Homo sapiens: one gene and its partners. The protein of the gene in region 1 interacts with the protein of each later gene in a pairwise test. Each region holds a gene or a part of one and is shown in the gene's direction. Other genes may lie near its edges.

Region 1 (4,415 bases):
CCTCAGTTGGCCTCTCCTCCCAGGTGCACATAGCCAACCAATGTGAGGTTGGCGGACTGCGCCTGGAGGCGGCCGGGGCCGAGGGGGTGCGGGCGCTGGGGGCTCCGGATACAGCCTCTGCTGCGCCGCCTGTGGTGCCTGGTCTCCCGGCCCTAGCGCCCGCCAAACCTGGTGGTCCTGGGCGGCCCCGAGACCCCAACACATGCTTCTTCGAGGGGCAGCAGCGCCCCCACGGGGCTCGCTGGGCGCCCAACTACGACCCGCTCTGCTCACTCTGCACCTGCCAGGTAGGAGGTCCTGGAAGGGCACACTGGGTCCTGGGATCTGGAGCAAGGGGCCTGGACACTCCCGTCAATGCCTCTGCTCCTCTCTGCAGAGACGAACGGTGATCTGTGACCCGGTGGTGTGCCCACCGCCCAGCTGCCCACACCCGGTGCAGGCTCCCGACCAGTGCTGCCCTGTTTGCCCTGGTGAGTTCCCCGCAGGGGAGTGGAGGGAGGAGTTGGCCCAGTGCGGACAGGTCCTTTGGGGAGGGAATGAGGGTGGTCACTCTCTGCTTTCACCATTTCTTTGGCTCCACAGAGAAACAAGATGTCAGAGACTTGCCAGGGCTGCCAAGGAGCCGGGACCCAGGAGAGGGTGAGCTGGAAGGGTGCGTGCAGGGTGGGAGGCCCCAGAGGAGCCATTAGGTTGAACCAGGAGGGGGACAAGAAGGGGAGAGTATATAGGGGGTGGCCTGAGGGGCACAGATTCCAAGTGATGCCTGACAGGACTCATTAGTGTTACTGGCCCCCAGGTGGGCCCTTGGCTTAGGCTCGTGTGGGGGTGGCCTGAGGCTCAAGCCTTGGTTGTGGGCCCAGCTGATGAGCTCATACTAATGGCTGCTGGGCCCTGTTCCCCACCAGGCTGCTATTTTGATGGTGACCGGAGCTGGCGGGCAGCGGGTACGCGGTGGCACCCCGTTGTGCCCCCCTTTGGCTTAATTAAGTGTGCTGTCTGCACCTGCAAGGTATGGCCACCCAATCTTCTCTGGTGCCATAACCCAGCGGGGTCTGCAGAGATGGGGAGGGGCTGCCAGGTGAGGAAGGCCCGTCCTTGGTGAGGAGGGCTCAAGAATCAAAACGATATGAGAAAAGGCCCTTGCGCTCTGAGAGTCGGCTTCCTGTGGGAAAATGAACAGGGCTGACCTGGGTGTGGATTCTGGCTCTGCCAGCTAACTAGTGCCAGTGACCCTAGGCACCTTCTGTCCCTGAGCCTCACTTTCCTCTCCTGTAAGCAGATATGATGGCACCTACCTTGCAGGGTTCTGATGAGGAGCTGAGTTTAGGTCTATAAAGCCAGTCCGGGCCTCTGAGTAAAAGGCCACAGAGAGACTGCATTTGAGGTGTGGAATAGGAGAGGGAGTGGGCAGGAGGCTTATGTGCCCCCTGCCTGACACTCCTTGCTCAATGGATCCCTACAGGGGGGCACTGGAGAGGTGCACTGTGAGAAGGTGCAGTGTCCCCGGCTGGCCTGTGCCCAGCCTGTGCGTGTCAACCCCACCGACTGCTGCAAACAGTGTCCAGGTGAGAGAGGTGGCTGAGCACTGAGGCCTCACCTTTGGGTTGAGGCAGGCTTTGTCCTGGGTGAGGGGAAGGGTGCTCAGTTAATTGAGCATTATACTGAGCACTGCTCTGTGCCTAGCCTGGAGCCAGGACTCTAAATGCAGTGGAAAGAATGTGATATACTAGTGGGGTATGATGGGTTCTGGTTCCTGCTCCATCCATCCGTCCATCCATCCATCCATCCATCCATCCATCCATCCATCCATCCATCCGTCCATTCATCTATCTATCCACCCATACAACCATCCACCCATTGATGCATCCATCCATGCATCCATCCATCCCTCCATCCATCCACCCATCCACCCATTGATGCATCCATCCATCCATCCATCCATCCATCCATCCATCCATCCATCCGTCCCTTCATCCATCCATTCATCTGCCCACCCACCCATCCAAATTTATCACCTACTAAGTGCCAGAAACTGCAACGTGCTGGGTATTCAAAGAGAATACTCATAAAACCTTGTTGGTCCTCCTGGGCTGATCCTTTCTCTTTCCCTCTCAACAGTGGGGTCGGGGGCCCACCCCCAGCTGGGGGACCCCATGCAGGCTGATGGGCCCCGGGGCTGCCGTTTTGCTGGGCAGTGGTTCCCAGAGAGTCAGAGCTGGCACCCCTCAGTGCCCCCTTTTGGAGAGATGAGCTGTATCACCTGCAGATGTGGGGTAAGTGGGGAGCAGAGGCTTGTGTGAGGTGGGTACTGGGAGCCTGGTCTGGAGTAGGGAGACCTTCCCAGGGAGGTCCCTGAAGAAGCTGAAGGTCACTGTGTCCCAGTGCCTCTGGGGGACACTCAGTGTCTGCTCTGTCTTGTACCAGGCAGGGGTGCCTCACTGTGAGCGGGATGACTGTTCACTGCCACTGTCCTGTGGCTCGGGGAAGGAGAGTCGATGCTGTTCCCGCTGCACGGCCCACCGGCGGCGTAAGTGAGGGAGTCCAGGGTCAGCAGCTGTGAGTGGAGGGCTCACCTGCCTGTGGGACTCCTGATCAGGGAAGGGAGCACTCACTGTGTGCAGGAACAGTGCAGCCTGCCTCACAAGTGCCATTCCAATCCACCCTCACAGCAACCTGGTGGAATTGTTATTTATGACCTTTTCTTTACAAATGAGATTTCTGAAGCTCAGAGAAATTAAGCAACGAGATGAAGGTCACCCAGCTGTGTGCACTGACCTGTTTAGAAAATACTGGCCTTTCTGGGACCAAGGCAGGGATGCTTTGCCCTGCCCTCTATGCCTCTCTGTGCCTCTCCACTCCCTCTCCCCTCCTCCAACATTCCCTCCCTTCTGTCTCCAGCAGCCCCAGAGACCAGAACTGATCCAGAGCTGGAGAAAGAAGCCGAAGGCTCTTAGGGAGCAGCCAGAGGGCCAAGTGACCAAGAGGATGGGGCCTGAGCTGGGGAAGGGGTGGCATCGAGGACCTTCTTGCATTCTCCTGTGGGAAGCCCAGTGCCTTTGCTCCTCTGTCCTGCCTCTACTCCCACCCCCACTACCTCTGGGAACCACAGCTCCACAAGGGGGAGAGGCAGCTGGGCCAGACCGAGGTCACAGCCACTCCAAGTCCTGCCCTGCCACCCTCGGCCTCTGTCCTGGAAGCCCCACCCCTTTCCTCCTGTACATAATGTCACTGGCTTGTTGGGATTTTTAATTTATCTTCACTCAGCACCAAGGGCCCCCGACACTCCACTCCTGCTGCCCCTGAGCTGAGCAGAGTCATTATTGGAGAGTTTTGTATTTATTAAAACATTTCTTTTTCAGTCTTTGGGCATGAGGTTGGCTCTTTGTGGCCAGGAACCTGAGTGGGGCCTGGTGGAGAAGGGGCAGAGAGTAGGAGGTGAGAGAGAGGAGCTCTGACACTTGGGGAGCTGAAAGAGACCTGGAGAGGCAGAGGATAGCGTGGCAGTTGGCTGGCATGCCTGGGTTCCGCAGAGGGGCTGGGGATGGTTCTTGAGATGGTCTAGAGACTCAAGAATTTAGGGAAGTAGAAGCAGGATTTTGACTCAAGTTTAGTTTCCCACATCGCTGGCCTGTTTGCTGACTTCATGTTTGAAGTTGCTCCAGAGAGAGAATCAAAGGTGTCACCAGCCCCTCTCTCCCTCCTTCCCTTCCCTTCCCTTTCTTTCCCTCCCCTCCCCTCCCCTCCCCTCCCCTCCCCTCCCCTCCCCTTCCCTTCACTCTCCCTTCCCTCTCCCTTCCCTTCCCTTCTCCTTCGTTCACAGCAATGGGGTCTTGCTATGTTGCCCAGGCTGGTCTTGAACTCCTGGCCTCAAGTGATCCTCCTGCCTTGGCCTTCCAAAGTGTTGGGATTACAGGCATGAGCCACCACACCCAGCCCAGCCTCTACCTTCTTTGTCTAAAGTGAGGCAAACACTTTTCTGTTTTTTTCCTGGAAACTCGTGTTCTGGACCAGTTCTGGGGCAAACTGGGGTCAGAGTGGATTGGAATCAGCTCTGATCCAGCTTTTGGCTGTGCTTACCTTGAGACCAAATCATGTAGAGAATAAGACAAGACCCTCCTGCCCTGTTACCCTCTTCTCTCTCCCCTCCCTCATTCCTACCATCAAGACCCAGGCATTTTGACAAGCTCTAGGAAATGAGGGTATCAGAACAGAAATCTAACAAATGTATGTAGCTGCAGATCCATCTTTCATATAAACAATGTGGAGTCAAATGAATCTGGGATTTTATGATCTGGTAGGGCAGGGGAAAGGGAAATCATAGCTTGCTTATGGAGTGTTAGGCATGCTGTATGTGGTTAAGAAGTTATTGTCTTAGCCCATTGAAGCATCGAGTTCCAGTTCTGCTGTTAACTAGC
Region 2 (4,415 bases), 3.4 Mb from region 1:
TACAGGTGTGAGCCACTGTGCCCGGCTTTTTTTTTTTTTTTTTTTTTTTTTTTAAGAAGGAGTCTTGCTCTGTCATCCAGGCTGGAGGGCAGTGGTGCGATCTTGGCTCACCTCCCAGGTTCAGGCGATTCTCCTGCCTCAACCTCCCAAGTAGCTGGGATTACGGGCGCCCGCCCACCACCATGCCCAGCTAATTTTTGTACTTTTAGTAGAGACGGGGTTTTGCCATGTTGGCCAGGTTGGTCTCAAACTCCTGACCTCAGGTGATCCACCCGCCTCAGCCTCCCAGAGTGCTGGGATTACAGGTGTGGGCTGTGCAGCCAAATTTGTAGTGTTTTTGATTCAGGCTTAGGAATTTAGGTTTAGTCACTTTATGAGAGTAACTTGGTCTTTCAGGGGTGAAGTTATGAAGCTTACAGAAGTGGATATTAAGTTTAAAATGGAGTTCAGCATTTCATCGTTCAGTGAGAAAAGCCTCCAGGCAGTTGAGATGGTTTATTTAGAAAGCCAGATTCATGAATGATTATGCTTTGGTGAAAATAGAATAAGGGGGTTAGGTAGTTTTAAGACATAACATTTTCAGCAAATGAGGCTTGATTTACCCACATTAACAAGAGATATTCGAACTGCCTCTCTGAGATAGTTACTCGAATGGGCACCTTCTTTTGGTTGTTAGGATATTCTTTTTTTTTTTGAGATGCAGTTTCGCTCTTGTTGCCTAGGCTGGAGGGCAATGGCGCGATCTCAGCTCACCGCAGCCTCCGCCTCCCAGGTTCAAGCAATTCTCCTACCTCAGCCTCCCGAGTAGCTGGGATTACAGGCATGCACCACCACGCCTGGCTAATTTTGTATTTTTAGTAGAGACAGGGTTTCTCCATGTTGAGGCTGGTCTCGAACTCCTGACCTCAGGTGATCCACCCACCTCGGCCTCCCAAAGTGCTGGGATTACAGGCGTGAGCCACCGCGCCCGGCCTAGAATATTCTTTTTGTAACCCTCAGTATACTTGGGAAAACAGTCATCACTGATCGTTTACCAAATAATTTTGTAGCAGAAAGAATGAAAGGGTAGTAAGGTCGTTATTGGACCTTTTTTTTTTTTGAGACAGGGTCTCGCTCTGTCACCCAGTTTAGAGTATAGTGGCATGATCATGGCTCACTGCAGCCTTGACCTCCCAGTCTCAAGTGATCCTCCTTCCTCAGCCTCCCAAGTAGCTGGGACTAGAGGCATGCACCAACCACACCTGGCTAATTAAAAAAAAATTTTTTTTATAGAGACGAAATCTTCCTGTGTTGTCCAGGTTGGTCTCAAACTCCTGGGCTCAAGCAGTCCTCCTGCCTCAGCCTCCAAAAGTGCTGGGATTACAGGCATGAGCCACTGTGCCCCCCATTATTAGACTTTTTTAAAGGCCATTATTGACTCCATGCTGGAGTATAGTGAAGCAAACACAACTCACTGCAGCCTTGACTTCCTGGGCTCAAGAGATCCTTCCACCCTACCCCAGGCCCCCAAGTAGCTGAGATTACAGGCACATGCCACCATGCCTGGCTAACTTTTGTATTTTGCATAGTGATGGTGTTTCACCATGTTGTCCAGGCTGGTCTCGAACTCTGGAGCCAAAGTGATCTGCCCACCTCAGCCTCCCAGAGTACTCGGATTACGGGCGTGAGCCCCACCACGCATGGCCTTATTAGACATTTTAGTGAGGGTTTAAACATAGCAAATCTAACTTTTTCATATTTTCCAGGTTTTGATGATATATGTATCTACAATGAATGCAGTTCTCTAAATGTAACTAACTGCTCACTGTTATACATGAACCTAGAACATACCAATCTTATAAATATTGATAGCAGATTTAAAATATATCTCTAATAAATTCTAGCTTATTCTGGTTATTCTTACAGTTGGATCATCAGAATGCAGTCCTTGAATACTTTGGAACTTTTAATGACATCTCATTCTATTGAAGAAGGGATAGCCATCTCTGTGCTGTAATTTTAGCACATTTAGTCAGTTGGATTGACTAATCTATTGAATATTTTTGCATTTCATTATCTTTCTTTTTCGAGTTACCTTTGTATACACATCTGCTTTTGACATTTCCACTTACGAAGTACATTTTGGCACACAAACATTTCTTAAAATTTTATCTTCAATTTTTATTTTACCTTTTTTTTCCCCCTGGACAGGGTCTCGTTCTGTCACCCAGGGTTGAGTGTAGTGGTACAATCTTGGCTCACTGCAGTCTCAACTTCCCAGGCTCCAGCAATCCTTCCACCCTAGCCTTCCATGTAGGTGGCACCACAGGTGCACGCTACGACACCTGGCTAATTTCTTTTGTATTTTTGATAGAGATGGGGTTTCATCATGTTGTCCAGGGTGGTCTTGAACTCCTGAGCTCTCAAGCAGTCGACCTGCTTTGGCTCCCCAAAGTTTTGGGATTATAGGTGTAAGCCACCGTGCCTGACCACAAACATCTTAAAAGATGGAAGAATACTGTCATATACCCTTTTAGCAAACCAGGATGATCTGGGTTCTTGTTGGAGGATTTTGCATGATGGAGTCTCAGTTGAGTCATTAACTGGATGAGAATACACATCATCTTTCCCTCTTCTCCTTAGAAATACATTGTTTGAGAACAATGTTTGAGAAATACATCGTTTGAGAAATACATCGTTTGAGAAATACATTGAGAACATTCATCTAAGATGTCACCATCTCAGACTTCATAGTCTGAGGTTTTGCTTTGTAAGATAATTTCACATTTATCAGTACTCTTTGCATCTGTTGTCTGATATCTCTAATAATTAGAAAGGCCTTCCTCTGTAAATTTTTCTTCTCTTCGCAATTATGAGTGAAAAAAATTCATAATTATCAACTGGTCAACGGTAGCTAAAAGCAGACTACAAGGATGGTGTCTTTGGTCTTTTTGAACTGTTTTGAAAGAGATGTGATACCTCAGGCTATGCAGTAAGGAAACTGTATGAACATTAACAGTTTATTTCACTGTTGTATCCTCTAGGTGATGCCATCATTCCTCTGTTCCATTTTAGTCTTTATTTAAAGCATAGCTGAGAATAACTGATGAATGTTGATGAAATTGTAAAGTGTTTCAAGATATAGGAAAAATAAGATCACTAGATTCTACCTTACATTTATAAAAGGGCCCAGTGGATACATATAATAATTACAGAATAAGGGTGAGTTCTGTTCTAGTCTTAGAGAAGTAAACTTTCTTGTTTTTTGGAATATGTCGTAAGGAAGAATATAAGTCATGAGATATTGATCCCTTTGAATAGTTAGATCTGTTTATAAAAGAAATGGAAAAGCTAAAATTGAGTTTAACGGACCCTGATTGGTATATTGGACTTCCTGCTTTTTCTCATAGCTTTTTTCTAATCATGGTATACGATAAAGTTCATTAGTAGGTTTTGGTTTATTCATTTCCAGTTCCAGTATTCCTACCACTTCCAAGATTACTCTCAAATCATCCTGATAGAAGCTTCAGGCTTTCTAAAAGTCTTTGTTTTTAGTTGTTTGTGTTTATCTCCCAGATGGCTGTTAACAGCCACTGATAGGTTTCCCTGATGATCTCTGCAAGGACAGTCAATCTTGGTTTTTATTGGTTTTTAGTTTCTTCTCAGCCCCCCTTTTCTACCTTTCTCTATACTGAAAATATAATACGTTAAAGAAGCTCTGCTGTGTCATAAGAAATAACTCTAATCCCAAGTGAAAGCTTCTGTGACCTATTACGTTAATAAAACTGATATTTATAGATATAAAGAATATGACTTGTTTTTTTGTGGATAGTTTTTATTTTGTTTTTTTTGAGATGGAGTTTTGCTCTAGGTGCCTAGGCTGGAGTGCAATGGTGTGATCTCTGCTCACTGCATCCTCCACCCTCTGGACATGATTCTCCTGCCTCAGCCCTCCGAGTAGATGAGATTACAGGCACCTGCCACCATGCCCGGCTAATTTTTATATTTTAGTAGAGACAGGGTTTACCGTGTTGGTCAGCCTTGTCTCGAACTCCTGACCTCAGGTTATCCACCCACCTTGGCCTCCCAAAGTGCTGGGATTACAGGTGTGAGCCACTGCGTCCGGCCTGGATAGGAATTTTGTAAGATACTTAATGTATTCTGCTAGATGGACTGAATGTGTGTAATTTTTTTGTTCAGTTAAACAATTTTAGTACATTTGATTTAGGTTCTTTAGCACGGGATCTAAATGTCATATCCTCGATGGAATTTAAAAATTACGTTAATCACTTTCTGAGAACAATTTTTAATATTAACAATGTTGACAGAAACAGGAAGACCTGTGTTTTACATTATTTAAAACTCCTTTGTAAGAGCATTTCTTTAAAATAATACTTATGTTTAGTAAACCTCATGAATATGGAATTAATTTCTAA
Region 3 (5,215 bases), on another chromosome or scaffold:
GGCAGTGGAAGACAGTGGAGGGACTGTCTGTTAGAGGGAGGAATTTATTGTGGTGTCGGCAAAGCCTTCTTTGGACTGAAGGATGAATTATGATTAGAAGTTCATTAAGAGGAGGAGGGAAGGGGACTACAGGAGTCATTCCAAGCCAAAGGAACAAAAGATACAGGGACAGAAACAGCAAGATATGTTTGGGGGAATCTCAAGTAATACTGTTATTGTGTGAAGTTCACAACAGGGGCAGGGAGGACAGGAGATGGGGCCCAATGACGAAAAGGCCTTGTATGTACCATGTTTAGAAGTTTGAATTTTATCCTATAGGAGTCAGGGAGAGGTTCTATGGGTAGGATTTCTCATCCCAACAGGATTGTAAACTCCCACATCCAATTAGTCACACCTCCATTTTTTTTTTCTGTTTCTTTAACATTGTCTCAGATTCATTCCTTCTGAAATCTACCTTATTAGTTCAGGTCTTCTTAAATTTGTGCCTGGACTGTTCACCAACTCTTGACTGGTCCTGGGGCTCCAGTTCACCTCTTGCTCCCAACAATCAATTTTCTACAGAATTATCAGAGCAATCTTCCTTTCCATCAATCTCAACTCTGTTCAAAAACTTTCAATAGTTTTATGTGACCTAAGAGGTAGCTGCCTCCCCACCCTTTCAGCTTGCCATTCAAGGCTGCATAATTTGGTCCCAACCCCCTTTCCGTCCTTGACTCCTCTCACTGCTAACAGAGACAGAACTCATTTACTTACTCTTCTGACTGTACCTTTGCTTTCACGAGGGCTCTTTCCCGGAATGATATGTCCATACAACTATTGTTGTTGTTCTTACTTTTAGCTCTTTTCTTAGAAGCCCACTTGTACCCAGGTTTGATCACACCCCCTACTCTCCTGCCCTGGAAGTAACTACTATTCTGGTTATAGTCTCTTAATATCTATATCTATATATATGCATCCACAGATAATGTGTAGTATTGTCTTGAAAAAAATATACATAAATGGTATACTTTGTCTCCCTCTGCGATTATTTTCACTGTCATTTAGTTTTTAAGATTTATCCCTATTGACATAAATAGCTATAGTCTTTTCAATTACTGTGTTGCATTTCATTTTATAAATATACCATACATTATTCATCCATTCCTCTAAGGGTGGGCATTTATGTTGTTTTCAAGGTTTTGCTATTACAGTGTTACAACGAATATCCTTAGCTTAGCTGGTCTCCTTGTCTTATACAAATTTTACTGACCTTTCAAGATCCTGCTTTCATCCCAGCTCCTCTGGGAAAGCCTTCCCTGAATCCCCCAGCCCACAGCGGCAAAGTCTTGGTACTCAAAGTTGCTTGTGCATCTTTGGTATCATCCCACTGCCAAGCACACAGCTACGCAAAGTAAGGCACTTAAGAAATATTCGCTACACGGATGAACAAATGAATGAATGAATGGGGCAGCACCACTCCGTGATGGCTCTATTCCTTTTTAATGGACTTTGGCGCCTTGGCCCACTTTCCTTCTTTGACAGCACTGGTCCTACTCCAGAGCATTCCTCTAGCTAGCAAAGCAGTGTGTGGATGTGTGGGTGTAGGTGGCGATACAGACCTCACTGGATGAGGACCGCCTCTCCCTGCAAGTTCACGATCCCGGCAAACTCCAGTGCTTGAAGTTCAGAGTCCTACCCCACCCCGCTCACCTCCACGCCCCTTCTGCACTGGTCAAGCCAGCGAGCCGCTGCAGCCCTGATCGAGTTAAGGCGCGGCGGCCCCCGGGGCCGCTGGAGAAGGATGCGGACGGGGCCAGTGACTCGTAGTAGATCCCTCCGCGCGGAGCTCGGGCCGGCGCTTCTTCCTGCGGGAAACCCCTGGGTGCCCAAGGCGGCGGGGCCGAGGCCGCGGCGACAGTGGGGCGGGGCTTGCGGTGGGAGGAGGCGGCTGAGGCGGAAGGACACACGAGGCTGCTTCGCTGCACACCCGAGAAAGTTTCAGCCAAACTTCGGGCGGCGGCTGAGGCGGCGGCCGAGGAGCGGCGGACTCGGGGCGCGGGGAGTCGAGGCATTTGCGCTGGGCTTCGGAGCGTAGCGCCAGGGCCTGAGCCTTTGAAGCAGGAGGAGGGGAGGAGAGAGTGGGGCTCCTCTATCGGGACCCCCTCCCCATGTGGATCTGCCCAGGCGGCCGCGGCGGCGGCGGCGGAGGAGGCGACCGAGAAGATACCCGCCCTGCGCCCCGCTCTGCTGTGGGCGCTGCTGGCGCTCTGGCTGTGCTGCGCGACCCCCGCGCATGGTGAGTATCGGGCTGAGGGGCGCTGTCCGCGGCGCCCGGGGCTGCCACCTGGGGCGACCCTTCTCCCCCTCGGTCCTTCTCTGTGTGGGAAGGCCAGGCTCGGCCGCCGGCGCGGAGCGAGGCCACTCGCTGGGTTCCCGAGAGTTTGGACATCGCCGGGGGCCCCTCCCGTGGTGCCCCGCCAACCGCCGGGGTTCCCCGCCAACCGCCGGGGTTCCCCGCCGCCTCTGCTCCCCGCGGCCCGGGACCCCTCACACGCCTCCTCGGCAGGAGGGAGGCCGGCAGCAAGTCTCAGAAACTCCTTTTTCGTAGTGCCAGGGTGCAGGGAGGTGGGCAGTTTTGCCCTTCAGGTTCCGCGTTTCCTGGGGTCGAGCGAGAGCCGACGGCGGGCCTCGGAGGGGCTGAGCGAAGGAATGCCAGATTCTGGCGTGGAGAGCGGGGGCAGGGCCGCCAAGCCAAACGGCCTGCACCTTCGCAGCCAGCCTCGCCTTTGCCAGGGGGCGGCACATGGGCCGGGTGTGTGGGCTTGGTTTGGATGGGGACGGGGTTTTGCGGCGCGCCTGAGTTTTGACACTCCAACCCCACCGAAAGTCCGGAGGAGCCGGGTGTGCTGCTCGCGTCTTTGAAAGGTGGAGGCAGGAGAAGTAGGGCAACTGGTGTGGCTGCATGCTGAGGCACATGATTTAAAAATCTCAACTGCTGTTATTCTTTCTGAGGCGCGGAGCTCTGCTGCTGTTTCAGGCTGTGTCCAGACCCAGGAATGTGGTGTGACGATCACCAATTCCTCCAACCTGGCAGCAGCATTTGCTGCTCCTTTGGCATGGCTGGGGGTGGGGCACGGGCGGGTGAGAAAAAGTGGATACGTCAATTCAAAGGGCTTCCTTAGAAAGCTTCTTTGTGGTTGGATGTTTCTAACACGGTTGGACCAAGGAAAGGGAATCAAATCATATCTTCCCCATCCCACCCACACTTTTAGATTCTACATTTCTTCAGACCCTTTAGTGGAAATAACTTGGGCTTTGGAGCCCTGCTCTGTAATCCTGGATTCAAATCCAGCTCTGCTATATGAACTCACCAATAAAATGGGAATGAAATTATCCAGCTAATAGGATTAATTAAAATAATGTATATTAAACGGATGACACTCCAAAGGTGTTCAGAAAGTCCTTTGAGGGCCGAGGCTGTGTTTTACTGCTTCTGAGATTGATGCTCCCAGTGGGATGGTGTCTTGTGCATATTTGTTGAACGGAAAGCAGCCCCTTCTTTTTCTGAGCCTAATCTGAATAAAGATTTTTACCTTCACCAAAAAACTAGTACATGAACTACATCTGTTTTCAAAGAAAAGGTTAGGAAGATGATGAGCTTCAGAAAAATATGGTCTTTGTTCATTGTTAACAGTCAGTCGACATGTCAATCGCAGATGTTTAAAAAGAGAACAAGGTTATTTATCACCCGAAAATAGTACTGGGTTGTTCAGCACCAACTAGATACTTCTTGGAAAGTTCAAATTTCGTACACGTCTAGGTCACTAAGAATTTCAGAAGTGGACCAGGAGGCTTTGTAGTGATGAAGCAGAGCTGTTGTTTCTGAAGCATTTAATAAAGAGCATATATGATGGTGTTTTTGCTTTTCCTTTTTCTTTGAGTGAAAGCTTTAAGTGTAGCTTTAGGATAGAGAGGAGTATAATCAATGAGACAGTCTGAGGGTAATAATCCTTGGTCTATCATTAACTTGTTTTGGTAAATAACTTAATCTTCATGATATGTAGTCTCCTCACCTATGAAGCAGGACTAAAGGAATAACCTGCTTTAGAGAATTGTAGGGAATAATAAATATGATTGTAAAGTGATTTGAAAAATTAAGTATTAAATAATATGTCAGAAATGGGATTACTCTGACACATAGGGCTTCTTTTATTATAGGATCTCAGTGCGTAAAACTATGCCCTCCACCTCTGCTCTGCTGAGGTGCTGCGATTATTAGCTAGCTTTTAGGTAGTCAAGTTGAGTGTTAGTCAAGTTGACTCAAAGGATAGGATTTAGATATTTTGATTTTTAGACAGGTGTTCTTTAGATGCTAAACTAATGCAGTAGAAGAGATTTAGAAGCCTGTTTCTTGGTACAAATCTTAAATCTTCTTAGAGTCTACAGTGAAGGCTTCTTGAATCCTCCTAATTTATTATTGTGTTTTGCTAAGGTACCAATTACAGCACACCCTTCTAAACTTTTGAGTGTTCCTGTGTTTGGCTTGTGGCCAATTGTTAATTTAAACATCACGGAGTTTCTAAGGCAAGGAGATGTTAGCAGTATGTCTGATTGTCTAAACAGCTATCCAGGACCATACTCTTGCTCCTTGTTTTCTTTTGCTTTGCAATGGGAAGTGACTCCCTGATTTTGCTGCCTGCTAGATAATTTCTCAGCTGAATTCTTCTCTTGCTTAAACAAAATCGGAGTAATTTTCTTTCAGATGGTGATGAAATTTAACCTAAAACTATTTTTCCTTTCACTTTCTTATTATTCCTTTTTTTTTGGTGTGGTGGAGAGGAGGAGGAGAGTGATTCCTAGTCTCTCTTATTTTTCTGAATGTTTAGATTTAAAAAATATTTACCCATAACTTCTTGGGATCTCTCTGCTCCATTCCCACCCTACTGCCTCTCCTGTAGGCTTCTATGACATAGAGAAGCAACTTTTGGTTCACCTGGATTGTAGTTGCTGACTTCAGGACCTTTAGAGAATGTTTAAATTCAGTGGGATATGCTTGGATGGTTCAGAGCAGCCTTACAATACATTTTAAAAATATCACACCCACAGAAATTCTATTTTGCCCACAAAATTTGCATTGATCTAGTTCCCACTCTGTGTTGCCATTCCTAGTGATCCTCCTCCCTACCTCTCCCATTATGGTAGAAAAAAACTCTGTGTCCTGGCTACATCAAAATCT
Region 4 (4,415 bases), on another chromosome or scaffold:
GAATTCCAGGCCTAGAGTTGATCCAGCTGGCAGGAGGTATCGATCTCCACTTGAATTCACTGAATAAATAATGGTTGCCATAGTTATTGAGCAGTCGCAACTGGTTGGAGAGCAGGGAAAATTCTGCAGTACCTTCTGTGAGTTTGGCCATGAGAAAGTCTGGTTACAAGGTTCCACAATCAGCTCCCTCCCCAAATCCAGCCAACATATTACTCAGTTCCTGTATCCTGATGATGAATATGAGATCTTGAATGTTATGTAAGACATGAGACACTGAAAGGAAGGGAAAGCTTAAATCAATGGACTGGTATTTATTCTGAGAAAGGCGTCTCTCCCTAGGTTATGAATATAATTGAATATTTTTCATTATTAATTCAATTTAGTATCAGCAAGGTGATGTTTGATCATGTTATAGCATTCAAGGGCTTCACAAAGGACGAAATCCATCTCGTTCTATTTTAACATTATTATACAAAGAGCACAACCTGGACATTTTAAAAGGAAGGAAAATTTATCCCAAAACCCCATAGGTATTTTCACGTTTATATTTTCTTTCACCCTTCTCTATATGAAGAAATAATTTTTGCATAGATGGAATCACAGCTTTAGTATTTAATATTCTACTCTTTATTTAATGTTGTAAACGTTTTTTTTTTTAATTTTGCTTCATGGCCTTCACATTTGTTCTGTTTGATGTCTTCAGAATCTTCCCTTCCATATACCATTATTTACTTAACAGTTCCCCTATTCTTCAGCCCTTTGCCTTTTTCCAGTTTTTTGTTTGTTTGCTTTTGTTTTGTTTTGTCTTGGTAATAGATAATGCTGAACCAAATGTCTCCATGTATACAGTTTTATTCTTCTGTTAAATGTTTCCTTTGGATAAATTCCCAAGAGTGGGATTACTTGGTCAGAGGCTATGAACGATTTATAGCTCTTGAAATTTACTGCCAAATTTACAGCCTGTTCTTTTGTTTTGGGGAGAAAATAAAACTTTAGGCAGAACACCACTGCATGCAGGATTCTCTTAAAATTCATTCTCTTAAAATTCACAACAGTCTCTTCTGAGACTGAAACATGGAGCCTGTGTATTTAGTAATGATAAGCCGTAGGAGACAGGTCCGCACCTGGGCTGATTAGCTAATAGTTTCTCAGGGAAAGCAAAATGATGCACTGCAAAGCTTGGAAATTAGGCCACGAATTGCTTTTTGTTAGACCTTGTAGTTACCAGCCACTTGCCCACTGGCAAGCATTGTCTTTGGTTCTGATTATTCCATGTGTATAGCACTCTACAGCTGACAGACCACTTTTCCATAACATTATCTTAATTGAGCCACAATAATCCATGGAGTTGGGTTTTATTATCATTGTACTTTTTCTTTTAATTTATTACATAACATTGAAGACACACAGGAATAATAACAGCAAAGGCTGTGTATCTGCCACTCAATAATTCCGATTTTCCTGTGAAGACATTGAGCCTTAGAGAAATTAGGTCACCCAGCTAGTAAATGACAGAACCAGAACTAGAACCTAGGTCTGTCTAACTCCAGGGCCAGTGCCCATCTCTTTATAGCATATTGCATTGAGACAAGATGCCTGCAACTTACAGTCCATGGAGATCCCGCTGGCAATCTTCATGGTTGTATTTTAATATCATTATAACATATCAGGCCAGGTGCAGTGGTGCATGCCTGTAAGCCCAGCACTTTGGGAGGCCAAGGTGGGTGGCTCACTTGAGGCCAGGAGTTTGAGGCCAGCCTGGCTGATATAGTGAAACCCTGTCTCTACTAAAAATACAAAAATTAGCCAGGTGTGGTGGCACACACTTGTAATCCCAGCTACTTGGGATGCTGAGGCAGGAGGATCTTTTGAAACCGGGAATGTTGCAGTGAGCTGAGATTTCACCACTGCATAGCCTGAGTGACAGAGTGAGACTCTGTCAAGGAAGGAAGGAAGGAAGGGAGGGAGGGAAGGAAGGAAGGAGGACACATCAGAGCTTTGGGACCTTACAGATAATGAAGTTCAACCGTCTCCTTTTACAGGGCCCCAAAGTGGGAGGAACTTCCCCAAATCATACACAACTAGCCAAACTGAGGATAATGCAAATTTTCTGGTTCCCAGGCCTCTTATTTGGGACAAGAAAAAAGTGTCTGGATAGTTCTTCATTTTTCTTATTGGCTTTTGCTTCAAGGAAATAACTTTTCTAACAAAAATGCCCCCAACTTAAAAAATTAATTTAGAGCCAGGCACGGTAGCTCATGCCTGTAATTTCAGTGCTTTGGGAAACTGAGGCAGGAGGATCACTTGAGCCCAAGAGTTCAAGACCAGCCTGGGCAACATAGTGAGGCCCTGCCTCTACAAAAAATAATTTAAAAATCAACCAGGTATGGTGGTGCATGCCTATAGACCTAGCTACTTGGGAGGCTGAGGCAGGAGGATCACTTAAGCCCAGGAGTTCCAGGCTACAGTGAACCATGACTGCACCACTGCACTGCAGCCCAGGCAAGAGAGCAAGACCATGACTCAAAAAAAAAAAAAATTAATTTTGTAAAAATTAGAAACTATTGCTTGATTTCCCATTAGAAGGATGTCTTCCATCTCTCAAGAATTATGATTTTACATGTAAATGTACTGAGAGAAGAAAATTTCGAGATAACAGAGGCCAAGCTCTTCCTTTAGAAATGAGGCTCTGAGGCCAGGCACAGTGGCTCATGCCTGTAATCCCAACACTTTGGGAGGCCAAGATGGGAGGATTACTTGAGGTCAGGAGTTCGAGACCATCCTGGCCAATATGGTGAAACCCCATCTCTACTGAAAATACAAAAAATTAGCTGGGCATGGTGGTACACACCTGTAGTCTCAGCTACTCGGGAGGGTGAGGCAGGAGAATCGCTTGAATCGGGGTGGAGGAAGTGGGGGAGCAGTGAGCCAAGATCGCACCACTGCACCCCAGCCTAGGCAACAGAGTAAGACTCTGTCTCAAAAAAAAAAAAAAAAAAAAAAAAAAAAAAAAAAGAGAGAGAAATGAGGCTCTGAAGTCTAAATGTTGAGGAAAAGCATAGTGATTTGTTGTGGATGTCAGGCTCCCTTCTCATTGCTTTGGAACAAGAGACCAGTATTTGCCTCAGAAAACTGGGTTCTAATCCTAGCTTTTAGCAGCTGAGTGACTTTGGGAAATTCATTTAACCTTATACATAAGATAGATCATAGTATTTAACATGGAGATCATTTTATATATTGTTTTGTAAAATATAAGATACTGGTATTTGTGTCTTAATACATTATAACATGCCTGCACCACATCCTTCTGGGCTTCCTCCCCTTCTCTTTGGCTTTTCCATCTCCACAGCAGGAGGACATGTGTATTTTGTACAGAGTGCCAGGTGTAGGTCAACAGGGGTTTCAAGTGGGGGGGAACAAAACAAGGAAAAGAAAAGCTGAATTCTTCTCAGTGCTGGTTAGCATGAAAACACAGGAATGCACTTTGCTGTGTTGGGTCTTTTCGAGCAGCCCTTGCATTAGCAAATGGAAGTTACAGCCTCCCCACCTCCCTTAAATGAGTCTGTCAAGATAGAAACATTAATTCATTTGCCTGGATGTGTTTCTATGTCACTCTGAAAAATAGTTGCCTACTGACAAGGCTTTGTGAGAGCTTAGTAGGATAATGTATGCAAAATAATAACCACCCTGCCATTCATTCCATGTGGCTGTGTGCCAGGAACTGTGCTTCCCTTGTGTTACTTACCTAAGCTGGCCATCCCAGAAACCCTGAATTGGGTATGATCATTTTCTTCATCTCATAAGGAAATGGGTGCTCAGAAGTAAAGAGACTTACTCTAGGGCACACAGCAAGTAAGTGTTGGGACTGGGATTCAAACCTTGGTGTTGCTTCATACCAAAGGCCATGAGCTATCTCTAACAGGGAGGGCACTTTGATTGCAAAGAAGCTATCCAAACTGGCAGAATGAGACACAGACCTCAATTAGGGATTCAAAGTGTCTTAAGATGTATTTGCCTCCTAAACTTCTTGCCCTTCTCTATCCCTCTGCAGAAAGACATGGGTTAAAAGAACCAAAGAGAGTCGAAGAGCTATGCAACAAGATCACAAGCAGTTTAAAAGACCACCAGAGTAAGGGACAGGCTCTGGAGCCCACCGAGTCCAAGGTCCTGGGTGCCCTGGTAGAACTGAGGAAGATCTGCACCCTGGGCCTCCAGCGCATCTTCTACCTGAAGCTGGAAGACTTGGTGTCTCCACCTTCCATCATTGACAAGCTCTTCCTGGACACCCTACCTTTCTAATCAGGAGCAGTGGAGCAGTGAGCTGCCTCCTCTCCTAGCACCTGCTTGCTACGCAGCAAAGGGATAGGTTTGGAAACCTATCATTTCCTGTCCTTCCTTAAGAGGAAAAGCAGCTC
Region 5 (4,415 bases), on another chromosome or scaffold:
TTAGGCAGCGATATTTAACCAAGGGATTATACATTCTTCCTGAGCTCTAGCCTATAAAAATTTCATGTTTCCACAAGTATAATGTTCCTGTCGGAAGTACCGTCTGCCTGAGGCCTACCCAGAGAAGATGTTTTTTAAAACAAGTACTTACTGCCTAAGTACTAAATACAGAGTAAAGTCTAGTGACAGTTTTATTTTCAGACTAAGTGATAGTATCTGAAGAGCTTAGTTGTATTTATTAGTTTTCACATTGTGTCAGTCTCTCAGGTGTCATCTTGATTCATGTATGTAAGTATGCATGTTCATGTCCACTTTTTCCCCTCTGTGCATCACAAAAGCCCATAATCTGGCCAGGCTTCCAAAACTGCAGAGGAGAATTGCATTATTTTAAGGTTCCTTGGCCAGGTGCAGTGGCTTATGCCTGTAATCCCAGCACTTTGGGAGGCTGAGGTGGGTGGATCACTTGAGGCCAGGAGCATGAGACTAGCTGGCAAGCATGGTGAAACCCCATCTCTACTAAAAATACAAAAATTAGCTGGGCAGCCGGGCGCGGTGGCTCACACCTGTAATCCTAGCACTTTGGGAGGCCGAGGTGGGTGGATCACGAGGTCAGAAGATAGAGACCATCCTGGCTAACACGGTGAAACCCCATTTCTTCTAAAAATACAAAAAATTAGCCGGGCGCGGTGGCAGGCACCTGTAGTCCCAGCTACTAGGGAGGCTGAGGCAAGAGAATGGCGTGAACCCGGGAGGTGGAGTTAGCAGTGAGCCGAGATAGAGATAGCGCCACTGCAGTCCGGCCTGGGCGAAAGAGCGAGACTCTGTCTCAAAAAAAAAAAAAAATTAGCTGGGCATGGCGGTGCGTGCTTGTAATCCCAGCTACTTGGGAGGCTGAGGCAGGAGGATTGCTTGAACTGGGGAGGCAGAGGTTGCAGTGAGCCAAAATCGCACCACTGCTCTCCAGCTTGGGTGACAGAGCAAGACTCCATCTCAAAAAAAAATTGGTTCCTCTAGATCAGCATTTTTGCATATGCATGTTTTTGTGATATTAAAGTGCCAGAACCACAAACAAAAAAAATTAAAAATAAAAAAAAATGTTTAAGTGCCAGAAGCCATTCATTCTTTTCTTTCAGCACCCACACACTCATTGTGATCTTGAGAACAGCCTCACATCCACAGGGTCTGTTGGTACCAAGGTCAGGCTTCTGTGTGACTGGGGCAAGGTGAACACAGAGTAAGTTACATGCATTGCAAAGGTAAGAGAGTGATACTTCCAGAAAAGATTGTGAATTCAAAATTTGATTTATAGCTCTGAACCCTAGAGCTATATAATATACAACTTGTTCATTCCCTCATTGTACTAAAAAACTATAAACATTGCTAAGTAGGAGGGAAGATGAACCTAGATTTCCTTTTAACTTAATTAAGTGAGCAAACAATTGGGTATAAAAGCACACTACATGGAAGTGGGAGAGGAAGGATAATAGTAATTTCTTAAACTGCTTAATCGTTATGGTTTCCAAAGTGAATGTATGTCCTGTTTCACACGGGATGCTCCAGTTGCCAGATTTGTAGGCCAGACAGGAATTAGAATTCCATTTTAATGATTCTGAGCTTAATTCAGAGAAGTTAAGTGATCCCTGAACAGAGTCAATATTAGAATACAAATATGTGCCTACCACATGCAGGGCACAGGGTACTGGAGGTTCAGAGATTAACAGGAACAGTTCTTACCCTTAAGGATCAATGTAGACACAAGTGTGTATTCACATTCATCACTGGAGACATTCATTCCTTCCCTGTGACAGATCTCCTGCCAGGCCACCCCTTCATTGTCTGGAGACCCTCTCCCAACTTTGCTTAGGTAGCTTGACCTCAACCCTACACTACCAGGCTCTGCTCTGCTGTCTCTGAGTTGGTACTACTCTAGCTTTGCTCTTCATTTTGGAAATAGATGCCAACATATTGTATTTTATTTTCTATTTCTAGAATTTCCACTTGGTAGTTCTTTGCTGATATTTCCTATTTTCAGTTCATTTCTATAAAATATTTTTCTTTTTTTTTTTTTTTGCACATGGTTGTAATACATTCTTCAAAATCCTTATCTGCTAATTCCAACATCTGGGTCAACTTGAGGTTGGTTTCCGCTCACTGTCTTTTTACTTAAGACTGGGTCACTTTTTTTTTTTTTTTTTTAGAGACAGAGTCTCACTCTGTTGCCCAGGCTGGAGTACAATGGTGTGATGATACCTCACTGTAGCCTCGATCTCCCAGGCTCAACTTGTCCTCCCACCTGGGCTTCCCAAAGTGTTGAGATTACAGGTGTGAGCCACCACACCTGGCAGCCCCCTTTTTCTTTTATTTGACAAAAAATTATATATATTTATAGTGTATAACATAATGTTTTGAAATATGCATAACTTGTGAGATGGCTAAATCAAACTTATAACATGTATTACCTCAAATACTTATCATTTTTTGTGGTGAGACCACTTAAAGTCTACTCTCTTAGCAATTGTCAAGTATACAACACATTGTTATTAACTATAGTCACCGTATTATACAAGAGATTTTTCTAACTAATTCCTTTTAACAGAAATTTTGTACCCTTTGACCAATGTCTCCCCAGTCTACCCTACCCACCCATCCAACCCCAGCCTCTACTAACCACCATTCTCTTCTCTGCTTCCATGAGTTCAACTGTTTTCGATTCCACATATAAGTGAAATCATGCTATATTTGTCTTTCGGTGCCTGCCATATTTCACTTAACATTATGCCCTCTCGGCTCATCCATGTTGTTGCAAATGACAGAATTTCCTTCTTTTTTAAGGCTGAATAGTATTCCACTGTGTATATACATCATATTTTTTATTCATTCATTCATTCATCAGTGGATACCTAGTTTGATTCCATAACTGGGCTATTATAAATAATTCTGCAATGAACATGAGATTGCAGCTATTGACATCCTGGTCTTTTTTTTTTTTTTTTTTTTTTTGAGATGGGGTCTCGCTCTGTCGGCCAGGCTGGAGTGCAATGGCGCAATCTCAGCTCACTGCAACCTCCGCCTCCTGCGTTCAAGCAATTCTCCTGCCTCAGCCTCCCGAGGAGCTGGGATTATAGGTATGCGCTACCAAGCCTGGCTAATTTTTGTAATTTTAGTAGAGACAGGGTTTTGCCATGTTGGCCAGGCTGGTCTCAAACTCCTGACCTCAGGTGATCCACCCACCTTGGCCTCCCAAAGTGCTGGGATTACAGGCGTGAGCCACCGTGCCCAGCCAGCATCCTAATTTTATTTCCTTTGGATGTATGCCCAGCAGTGGAATTGCTGTATTATATAATAGTTCTATTTTTAGTTTTAGAGGAACCTTCATACTGTTTTTCGTAATGGCTATGCCAATTTAAATTCCCACCATCAGTATAGATGGGCTTCCTTTCCCCGTATCCTCACCAACACTTGTTATCTGTCATCTTTTTGATAATATCCATTCTAACAGGTATGAAGTGATAACTCATTGTGGTTTTAATGTTCATTTCCCTGATTAGTGATGTTGAGCATTTTTTCATATACTTGTTGGCCATTTGTATGTCTTCTTTTGAAAAATGTCTATTCAGATCCTTTGTCCATTTTTAAATCAGGTGATTTGTTATCTTGCTGTTGAGTTATAGGAGTTCCTTATATATTTTGGATATTAACCCTTTATCAGACGTATGGTTTGCAAATATTTGCTTTCATTTCATAAATTTTCTCTTCACTGTTGATTGTTTCCTTTGCTGTGCAGAAGCTTTTTACTTTGATACAGTCCCAGTTGTCTACTTCTCCTTTTATTGCCTGTGCTTTTATGGTCATTATAAAAAATTACTGCCCAGACAATGTCATGAAGCTTTTCCTCTATGTTTTCTGCTAGTAGTTTTACAGTTTCAGGTCTTATGTGTAAACCATTAATCCATTTAAGTTGGTTGTTGTATATAGTGTGAGAGAAGGGGGACAAGACGTCCAGAGTTTATCACTTTTGTGTATATTGGTTGGATCTGGTGATAACGATTTGGCTCTATGTCCCCACCCAAATCTCAACTTGTAGCTCCCATAATTCCCATGTGTTGTAGGAGGGACCCAGTAGGAGATGATTGAATCATGGAGACGGGTCTTTCCTGTGTTGTTGTCATGATAGTAAAATGGGTCTCTCAAGATCAGATGGTTTTAAAAACAGGAGTTTCCCTGCACAAGCTCTCTCTTTGCCCGCTGCCATCCAAGTAAGATGTGACTTGCTCCTCCTTACCTTCTGCTATGATTATGAGGCCTCCCCAGCCATGTGGAACTGTAAGTCCAATAAACCATTTTCTTGTATAAATTACAGGAAAAAAGACTCTGGATTTTGTTATATTCCTTCAAAGAGTGTTGGTGTTTTTGCT
Region 6 (3,746 bases), on another chromosome or scaffold:
CCAGCCTCCAGGGCTCAGGTTTGGGTGGGAGGGGCCTGGTCCCACCCAGACTCTGTATGTAGCCCCCAGTCCCTGCTCCTCTGTGTGCATGAGGGAGTGCCAGCTTGCTTGGGACCCCCCAGGGTGAGGGCTTGGGACGGGCACTGGGGCCCCGCAGGGGCTGAGGCAGCCAGGAAGCCCACAGCATAGGCTGTTTGTGTTGGCGGGCCTCCCTACCTCCTCAAAGCTGCCTCAGAGCCCGTGGGCCTGGGGGGCCAGGGTGTGTGGGCTTGGCTCTGCTGTCTGTCCTGAGCTGCCCCTGCTGAGCTGTGTGGAGACCCCGAGGTCTGGGCTGGGCCAGGACTGAGCTGCTGCCCTGCTGCTGGGGCTCAGAGAGGCTGCTCCACGGGCATGGCACCCAGGCTGCTGCAGACAGGCTGCTTTATCATGTGGGCAGGCCCCTCTTTGGGTTGGACCTCCGTCTGGCCTTGTGGGTGTCTGAGATCTCCTTGCAGCTCAGTCCCCAGGGCTTTTCCAACCTGCAGAGCTCTGGATGTCTCTTTTGGGGCTCTCGCTCAGCCAGGGTTGGGGTGGAGGCTCTATGGTTCCCTCCTGCCCTTGGGCTACTGGAAGGACAGTTACCTCACTCCAGAGAGCTAGTTCTGAGGGGCGAGGTGTTGCGGGGTTGAGCCAGCAGGGCAGGGAGTAGTGGGCACTGCGTTTGGCTGCCCAGGTGGGTTTGGGGCCTCTCCCTGGCCAGAAATCCCTGAGTGCCAGGAGGAGGACAGACTCCCCAGCCTGGCACCCATGGTGGAGGAGGGCCTTGCGGGTCATTGCTGGCAGCTCCATAGGGAGGGCGTGAGGCCCCTTCCTGAGCCTGGGTGTCTGCTCAGAGCCCAAGGCAGGGTGGGGTAGGGGTGCTTGTGCCTGGTAGGAAGCAGACAGCAGGCTGGTCCAGGGGTCCAGGACCCCAGGGAGGAGGCACTGCTGCGTGTCTGTGTGGGTGCAAGCATGTGTCTTGGCCTGTGTCTCTGCATGTCCGTGCTGTGAGTACGTCTTTGAACATGTGTTCTCTGCACACCGTGTCTCTGTGAGTGTGAGTCTGTGTCCCTGCCTGGCTGTCTCAGAGCCCTGAAGGAGCAGAATTTGGTGACTCAGTCATTGATTCAGAGCTTTCCTGGTTGGGGCTACTCCTCAGTGGTCTTCTTCTCCGAGTCTGGTGGTGTATCCCCTGCCCACCCCGACTGCCCCTCTGCCCTGTAGGGACCTGGCCCCAGGTGGGGGTTCCCTGCCCTTCTCTGGGAGCATCTCTGGCTGTACAGCTGAGGGTGGAAGCCAGGGCTCCACTCTGCCCATCTTTCCTTTTGCAGAGCTTGGGGCTTCCTTGGTCGCACCCACCACCTGCCTGCCCACTGGTCAGCCTTCAGGGACCCTGAGCACCGCCTGGTCTCTTTCCTGTGGCCAGCCCAGGTATGTCAGGGCCCGGCTGGGCTGGATGGTTGTGGTGGGCAGCAGTGGGCTTGCCTCTGGGTCTCACTTTGCCAGCCCAGGGGCCTTGCCAGCGGACACTTTGACACCACACCTGAGTATCTAATTGGAGCTCCCGTGGGGAGGGGCTGGACTTTGGAGACAGGGTCCCAGAACACCCCGACTGGGGTGTTGAAGGACCCTCCCCGACTGAGCTCTGACACTGTGCCTTGCCCGGGCCCCTGACTGCGTCTGGGCAACCCAGTGTGAATCTTGAACTTGGCAACAGAAGCAAGCCCAGCTCCCCGCCCCCACCCCCCCCCAACCCCGCTCCTCCTGACCCTCGGTGGCCTTGTGAGGTTTTTGATTTCTTCTTGAATAGGCTTCATCTGCTCACCTGGGCGATGTGTGCAGAGCTTTGTAGATGGGAAAGGGGGTGGGAGGGGTCTTAGGGGACACTGGGACTGCATCCTGGGCGCTGGGCTCAGTGCAGGCACCCAGACCAGCTCTCCCTTCGCCCTCCCACCCGCCTGGGACCCTCGAGCCTTGCCTGCCACTTCCCCTTCCACCCCCAGCCACAGAGGGACGCAGGGGAGATGGGGCAGGGGTGCCACTGGCTAGCCTGGCGGCGGATGCTCTCCTTGGGGTGGCTCGGGTGGTGTTTTTGACTGCAGGTGGGGTCTGGCTTCTCCCAGTCAGCCTGGGGTCCTCCCGGGTCCCCGTGGCACCTGCCCTTGCCTGGCCCACGAGTAGGTGCTCTGAGCGCTGCCCAGGTCACATGTGAGCTCCCTGGAGGCGCTGCACACGGCTGAGTGTCTGCCCTCAGGTTGCACCTGCGTGGCCAGGGGAAGGGGGCCGGGCGCCATCTGCTCTCTGGGCAGAGCTGCGGGTGAGGGTTTCTGTCAGGGTTGGGGTCCCAGGGCTCCTGGGGTCTCTGCTGGGCCCCGATGCGTGGCCGCCGTTCTGACCCATTCCTGGGGCCCAGACCCACCAAAGAACCCCCAGGGGAAGGACAGGGTAGGGGCCATGGGAAGCCCCAGGATGGCCTTGTGGGCCTTCAGGGGACCTCCAGGCCAGCCTCCTGTTCTCTGGGGGCCCCCTGTCCCCTTCCCCCAGCGAGGACCTGGGCATGGGGTGCTGCCCTGGGGCTTGGGCTGCAGTTCTCTACAGAGCCCTTGGGGGGCAGCAGAGGCTTGGGGCACCCAGCCCAGGTCGTCAGGGGTGGGCAGAGCTGCGGGACCTCCCTGGGCACCCGGGGCTTCCACGGCAGCCCTCCCCAGACCTGCCACCTCCCACATCAGTCACTCCAGGAGGACCCAGGCCTCCAGAGCTGGTCAGCCCTGCCATGGAGCACCCCCTTCCCCTCCCTTAGCTTCCTCTCCCTCCTCTTCCTCCTGCCCTTCCTCATTCCCCACCTCTGGGCTTCAGGTCATCTGCCAGGAATCTGGGCCACGTGCTGATATCTTCCCAACACCGCAGGGCCCTTGTGCCCTGTGGTGGGGCTGGGGCTTCAGAGGCGTGGGGTAGGCTGCAGGGCACAGCTGGGGGCCTCTGTCCCCATCTCCGGCTGTGGGAGGTGTGTGCGCATCCGGCGTGATGACACCCAGGAGTGCAGGCACATCTGCGCACGGGGCCGGTATGTCTGTACCTGTCAAGGGGTGGGGTGGGGTCTTTTACAGGCTGACTTCCAGCCTGGGCTGGAGCAAAATGAAATTCTGGGCCCCTTGTTTAAAAATTACCAAGAATTTCAAGACGGGAACAGCAGAGCATCAAGCCAGCTGGGGTGGGTGCGCGCGACTGCCCTTGAAGCCGGCCCCGCTCCCGCATTGGGGACAGCACGGGGCGGAGGCCGAGCCGGGCCCACCTGGAGCGCTCTGGGTCTGTCCTGGGGCTGCCAGCCTCCTGCGGGGCTGCCTGGTGGAGGGGGGGTGGGTATCTCAGGAATCACACCTGCGCTTTTCTGTGTTCTGGAACCTCCCATATAGTCAAAGACTCAACGACACCTGCTCCATGCAGTGCAGGCTGACCCAGCCCCCCACCCGCCGCCGGCACTCAGGGCTTCCCCAAGGGCGCCCGGGGCGGAGCCGCTTCAAGTTGCCACCAGACAGCAACGGGGTCACCCTCCATTTGCGTAGTGCTTTGAGTATCGTTCTCGTGGTTGGAGGTCTCCAAGCCCGGCCCGGGGCCAGAGTCCGGGCGAGGTACCGTGGGGGGAAGGGCTGGGGGTGTCGGTCGCGGGCTAAGAGCTGCCCAGGTTTCATCCCCAGGCCCCGGCCCCGGCCTCCAGTCCCCTCAGGCGC
Region 7 (4,209 bases), about 44 Mb from region 1:
GATCTCGGCTCACTGCAAGCTCCGCCTCCTGGGTTCACGCCATTCTCCTGCCTCAGCCTCCCTAGTAGCTGGGACTACAGGCGCCCGCCACCACGCCCGGCTAAATTTTTGTATTTTTAGTAGACACGGGATTTCACCGTGTTAGCCAGTATGGTCTCTATCTCCTGACCTCGTGATCTGCCGGCCTCAGCCTCCCAAAGTGCTGGGATTACAGGCATGAGCCACCGCGCCTGGCCAGAAATGCCACTTTTATATTCAGTTTCCATATATTTAGGGGTATGTCTCTGAGGACTCTATTACATGCCATGGGTCTATATTTCTGCTCTTATATCAATACCATACTTGTTTTATTATTTTTGAACCTCAGCTTTCTGCCATGTCTTTATGAACTGCTACGGTAAGTATGCCCATTATCCTTCTTTCTTTTTCAGAAATTATTTAGCTAATCATAGAAATTTATTTCTTCATATACATTTTGGAGTAACTTGAATTCTTAGAAAACATTCAGATAGAATTTATTCAGAAGGCATTGTGTTTCTAAATTAATTTGGAAACAAATGGTATTTTTGTAATATGTTTGAACATTTACTCAAACCATAGTCTATGTTCTTTACTGGGGTGTTTAAGTTTTCCTACATAGGTGCACATATTCCTGGTTAAACTAGATCATTTAGAGATCTAACGTACAGCATGAGGGCTACAGTTAATAATATTGTATTGATAGAAAATTTGTTAAGATTTTAGGTGTTCTTTTCACACACACAAAAAAAGATAACTGTGAGATGGTGGGTATGCTAATTTGCCTGCCTGTAGTAATTATTTTACTTTGTATACATATGTCAAAACATCATGTTGCATACCATAAATAAATAAACCAAATAGTTTACAGACTGTTGATATTATGAAAGTTATTTTATTATATTTTCTAATAGATTACTGGTTTAGAATAAAGACTATTTCTGTTTGTAGGGTAATCTTGATTCCAGCAATGTCAGAAACTCTCCTTACTATTCTGAGACCCAATCTGCTATTTCTGCTTGTTTTCCCAGGCATATGATCCTATCTCCTATAAAGAATGATGGTTTTATCTGTTTACTTACAATTCTCACAATTCTATTTCTTTTTTCTTTCCTTATGGCTTTGGCCAGAACCTTGAGTCATACATAAAATTGTGGCAGTGTTAGTAGATATCCTTGTCTTATTCCTGATATTAACGTTTCTCCATTGAGTTATTTTTTATTTAGTTTTTATGGTATATAATCCTTATTAAGTTAAGGAAAATTACTTCTAGGTTTCTGAGAAATAGGTACTTATTAAATTTTTTGCATTATTTGAGGTAATTACATGATTTTTCTCCTTCAGGCCATTATTAATGAAGTGAATTACATTGACTGATTTTTCTGATACTAAATTCCACTTCCATTCATGGAATAAATCCTGTGTGTTCATGATGTATTACTTTTTAATACAGTTTACTTCAGTTAGCTCGTATTTTATTTTGGTTTATTGCATCTATAATTATAAGGGAATTGGGCTCAATTTTTTGCTTATATTGTTTTTATCTGGTTCTGGAATCAATATTTCACAACCTTCATAAAAAGAGCTGGGAAACTTTTTGCTCTTCTATTTTCTAGAATAACTCTTAAGAGTTTGGTAGAATTCATCTGGAAAGCAATATGAGCCTGGGGCATTTGGGGCAGGGAAGAGATGTCAACTATCATTTCAATTTCTTTAATATTCCAAGTTTTGTTTTTCTGTTTCTTCTGTCCTTCTTTCTACCTGATTCCCTTTTTTCATAGACACACCTCAATCCTCACTGCTCCATTCACATATCACATACAGTCTTTATCTTTGAAGATTCTGACTATATTTTAAAGCAAAAACTCAATCTCCTATTTATGAGTTAATTCCTAACACCTCGTAACACCGTTCCATCTTCCTCATGCCCTCTGATAACTCTGTGTGTATCTTGGACATTATTTATACTACTTTTATCAGGGTTATCTCTATGCATTATTTCCATTTCTACTCAGCAATGGATAATCTAATATCATGTATATAATATGACCTTTGCCTTGCATGCAGCCCTGTCTTCTCTAAAACCAAAAATTTTGTAAAAGTAGAGAGCATAATGCTAATAAGGGTCTGGCTTCTTTGTTTTTGCCCTTTCCCTTTATATACAAATATAGAAGGTTAAAAGCTTTGTACATAGAGACTTTGTGCCCTGTATAAACATTCCTCTTCACCATACAAACCCCACCCCCATTCTATCTCAAGTCCTCATTCACCTCAGCAGAGCCCATTGATCCAGTGGACTGTCTTTCATCCCTGGGTCTCGACCTCACTCCATAAATATTTATTTGGGGGGAAGGAATGGGAATGCTGCCAGACCACAGTAGTGAAGAAACCCAGTATCTTCAAGGTAAGGCATGGAGGGCAACATCTAAGCTAACTTGGTGAGATTTCTAGGAGGGTTCTTCTTACCCCTCGTGCCCAGTACAGTCTTTCTTTTTCAGGTAGCACTGGCCATTCACTGTAATTAAAGATAGTATGAAGTGTTTCTGCTAGCATCAAAGGAAAACAACTGGCAGATTTACAAATTATATTATATTATAGTTCTATTCACTGTTCATATACTTCTCTAAGAATCTTCTCTTTTCCATAACTAGTGTTGGGACCACAGAGATGAAAGACTATCATTTCCCCCACACCCCAATCAAGGTGCTCATGGTCTGGTAAGAAAGTCAAATGCATTAGCTGAAACTTAACAACTGATAAAAGCTGTGACAGAACCAAGTTCTAATGGCTGAGGAAGGATACAGAGGATCCTCTATGGTGAAGCTCACCTGCGGTCCAGCCCCATCACTGTCATCAGCACTTAGTCACATGAGCTACCCTAAAGGGAAGTAGGATCTGGCCTATGGAATCACAATCCCAGGACACTATAGCTGTGGGGCTTTGGGAAACCTTCCTGGTCCTTCTGAGCCTCAGCTTCTTCATCTATAAAGTGGCACCAACAGCCACTGTGGTGGTCGTGAGGAGTTAATGAAATGATGTGTGTAGTGTCTGACATGCAGAAGGGCCCAGGCTACTGGGAGCTGTTGTCTATTGGGTGTCATGACTCTTCGCTTCTGATTGCAGGTGGTAACACCAGATGGACATGGGAAGAACCGAGCTAAGTGGGGCCTGCTGAAGAATATCCAGTCTGCCCTCCAGAAGCACTTCTGAGCCCCTTCAGAGCAGGAAACAACCTCAGACTCATCACAAAGTAGACATATACACACACATATATGTATGTATATTTTTCTCACCACATTCTTCAAGGAGGTTGTAGACAAATGTTTCCATGACCTCTCAGCTTTCCAACAGGAATCTTGTAAGAGCTAATAAAAGGAAATACCTGACATGGCTTGCTGTTTGTTCAATGACAACTATTTGTTATGATGACAGTAATAAGCAAGGCACTCAGCAAGTCTGTATATTTCCAGCTGCTCAGGTCTAGTCCTAGGCTCAGAATTCTGTGGTGTTTTGTAGGAGCAACACCCAGCTTCTAGGTGGTAAAAAGAACACTGTATTTTGCAGTCGGGACCCCGTAGGTGTGCATTCTAATGCTGGCCTAACTAGCTTTGAATGCTTGGGCAAGTCGCTGATTGCCACGGAATTCATTACCTCACCATGTAGTCTATTTTAAGGAGCCAACATTAAAATGTTTTTCCTAATTATTGAACTTGAATTTGCCTTTTCACAACTTTCAGCCCATGGTCTGAGGTCTACCTCTAAGCCATAAAGAATGAGAGCCCTCCCTCTTCTCCTTCTGGACATAGCAAAGGAAGAACGGTAGAATGCCTGGTTAGAGGATCCTCTATGGTCATTTGAAGCAAGGCATGGAAGAATGACAAAATCATGTATCAGCTCCAACCTCACTGAACTTAGCTTGGCCTTTCAGACAATATGAAGTCCCTAGAATTTCTTGTCATACAAGGCCCTATCTGCCAGAAATGACCCTCTACTGAACCCCACGCCATTTCTTCCCAGAAAGCACCACCTGTCTTTCAAGACTCAGCTCAACCACTTTCCCCAGTGATCCTCCAAATTATGATGACAACATCTTTCTCCCCTGCATCCCCACTAAGCACAGGGACCACCTGTCCCACCCCTATTTCCCATAAAGACACCCATTCCAGCCCTGTGATACTTAGGACTCATTTG

The links.
Region 2: the proteins of CHRD (region 1) and FXR1 interact in a two-hybrid assay, tested with the Homo sapiens proteins (one large-scale study listed by BioGRID and IntAct).
Region 3: the proteins of CHRD (region 1) and NOTCH2NLA interact in binary tests that used the Homo sapiens proteins (3 or more experiments, as listed by UniProt).
Region 4: the proteins of CHRD (region 1) and NR4A3 interact in binary tests that used the Homo sapiens proteins (3 or more experiments, as listed by UniProt).
Region 5: the proteins of CHRD (region 1) and F2R interact in a two-hybrid assay, tested with the Homo sapiens proteins (one large-scale study listed by BioGRID and IntAct).
Region 6: the proteins of CHRD (region 1) and TSPAN4 interact in binary tests that used the Homo sapiens proteins (3 or more experiments, as listed by UniProt).
Region 7: the proteins of CHRD (region 1) and TRIM42 interact in binary tests that used the Homo sapiens proteins (3 or more experiments, as listed by UniProt).

What each region holds. Positions count from the first base shown.
Region 1 is NC_000003.12:184,386,469-184,390,883, forward strand, and holds the end of CHRD (chordin isoform 1 precursor), read left to right. Parts: exon of another isoform or gene 1-16; intron 17-23; coding exon 24-287; intron 288-376; coding exon 377-470; intron 471-582; coding exon 583-639; intron 640-905; coding exon 906-1,009; intron 1,010-1,462; coding exon 1,463-1,565; intron 1,566-2,118; coding exon 2,119-2,273; intron 2,274-2,424; coding exon 2,425-2,527; intron 2,528-2,898; coding exon 2,899-2,954; 3' UTR 2,955-3,361; downstream 3,362-4,415. UniProt on the Homo sapiens protein: Dorsalizing factor. Key developmental protein that dorsalizes early vertebrate embryonic tissues by binding to ventralizing TGF-beta family bone morphogenetic proteins (BMPs) and sequestering them in latent complexes.
Region 2 is NC_000003.12:180,943,240-180,947,654, forward strand, and holds part of FXR1 (RNA-binding protein FXR1), read left to right. Parts: intron 1-4,415. UniProt on the Homo sapiens protein: mRNA-binding protein that acts as a regulator of mRNAs translation and/or stability, and which is required for various processes, such as neurogenesis, muscle development and spermatogenesis.
Region 3 is NC_000001.11:146,225,769-146,230,983, reverse strand, and holds the start of NOTCH2NLA (notch homolog 2 N-terminal-like protein A), read left to right. Parts: upstream 1-1,962; 5' UTR 1,963-2,272; coding exon of another isoform or gene 2,273-2,275; intron 2,276-5,215.
Region 4 is NC_000009.12:99,859,569-99,863,983, forward strand, and holds part of NR4A3 (nuclear receptor subfamily 4 group A member 3), read left to right. Parts: intron 1-4,051; coding exon 4,052-4,299; 3' UTR 4,300-4,415. UniProt on the Homo sapiens protein: Transcriptional activator that binds to regulatory elements in promoter regions in a cell- and response element (target)-specific manner.
Region 5 is NC_000005.10:76,725,709-76,730,123, forward strand, and holds part of F2R (proteinase-activated receptor 1 isoform 1 precursor), read left to right. Parts: intron 1-3,003; exon of another isoform or gene 3,004-3,125; intron 3,126-4,415. UniProt on the Homo sapiens protein: High affinity receptor that binds the activated thrombin, leading to calcium release from intracellular stores.
Region 6 is NC_000011.10:845,852-849,597, forward strand, and holds part of TSPAN4 (tetraspanin-4), read left to right. Parts: intron 1-1,349; 5' UTR 1,350-1,449; intron 1,450-3,746. UniProt on the Homo sapiens protein: Structural component of specialized membrane microdomains known as tetraspanin-enriched microdomains (TERMs), which act as platforms for receptor clustering and signaling.
Region 7 is NC_000003.12:140,697,747-140,701,955, forward strand, and holds the end of TRIM42 (tripartite motif-containing protein 42), read left to right. Parts: intron 1-2,669; coding exon of another isoform or gene 2,670-2,768; exon of another isoform or gene 2,769-2,996; intron 2,997-3,141; coding exon 3,142-3,228; 3' UTR 3,229-3,404; downstream 3,405-4,209.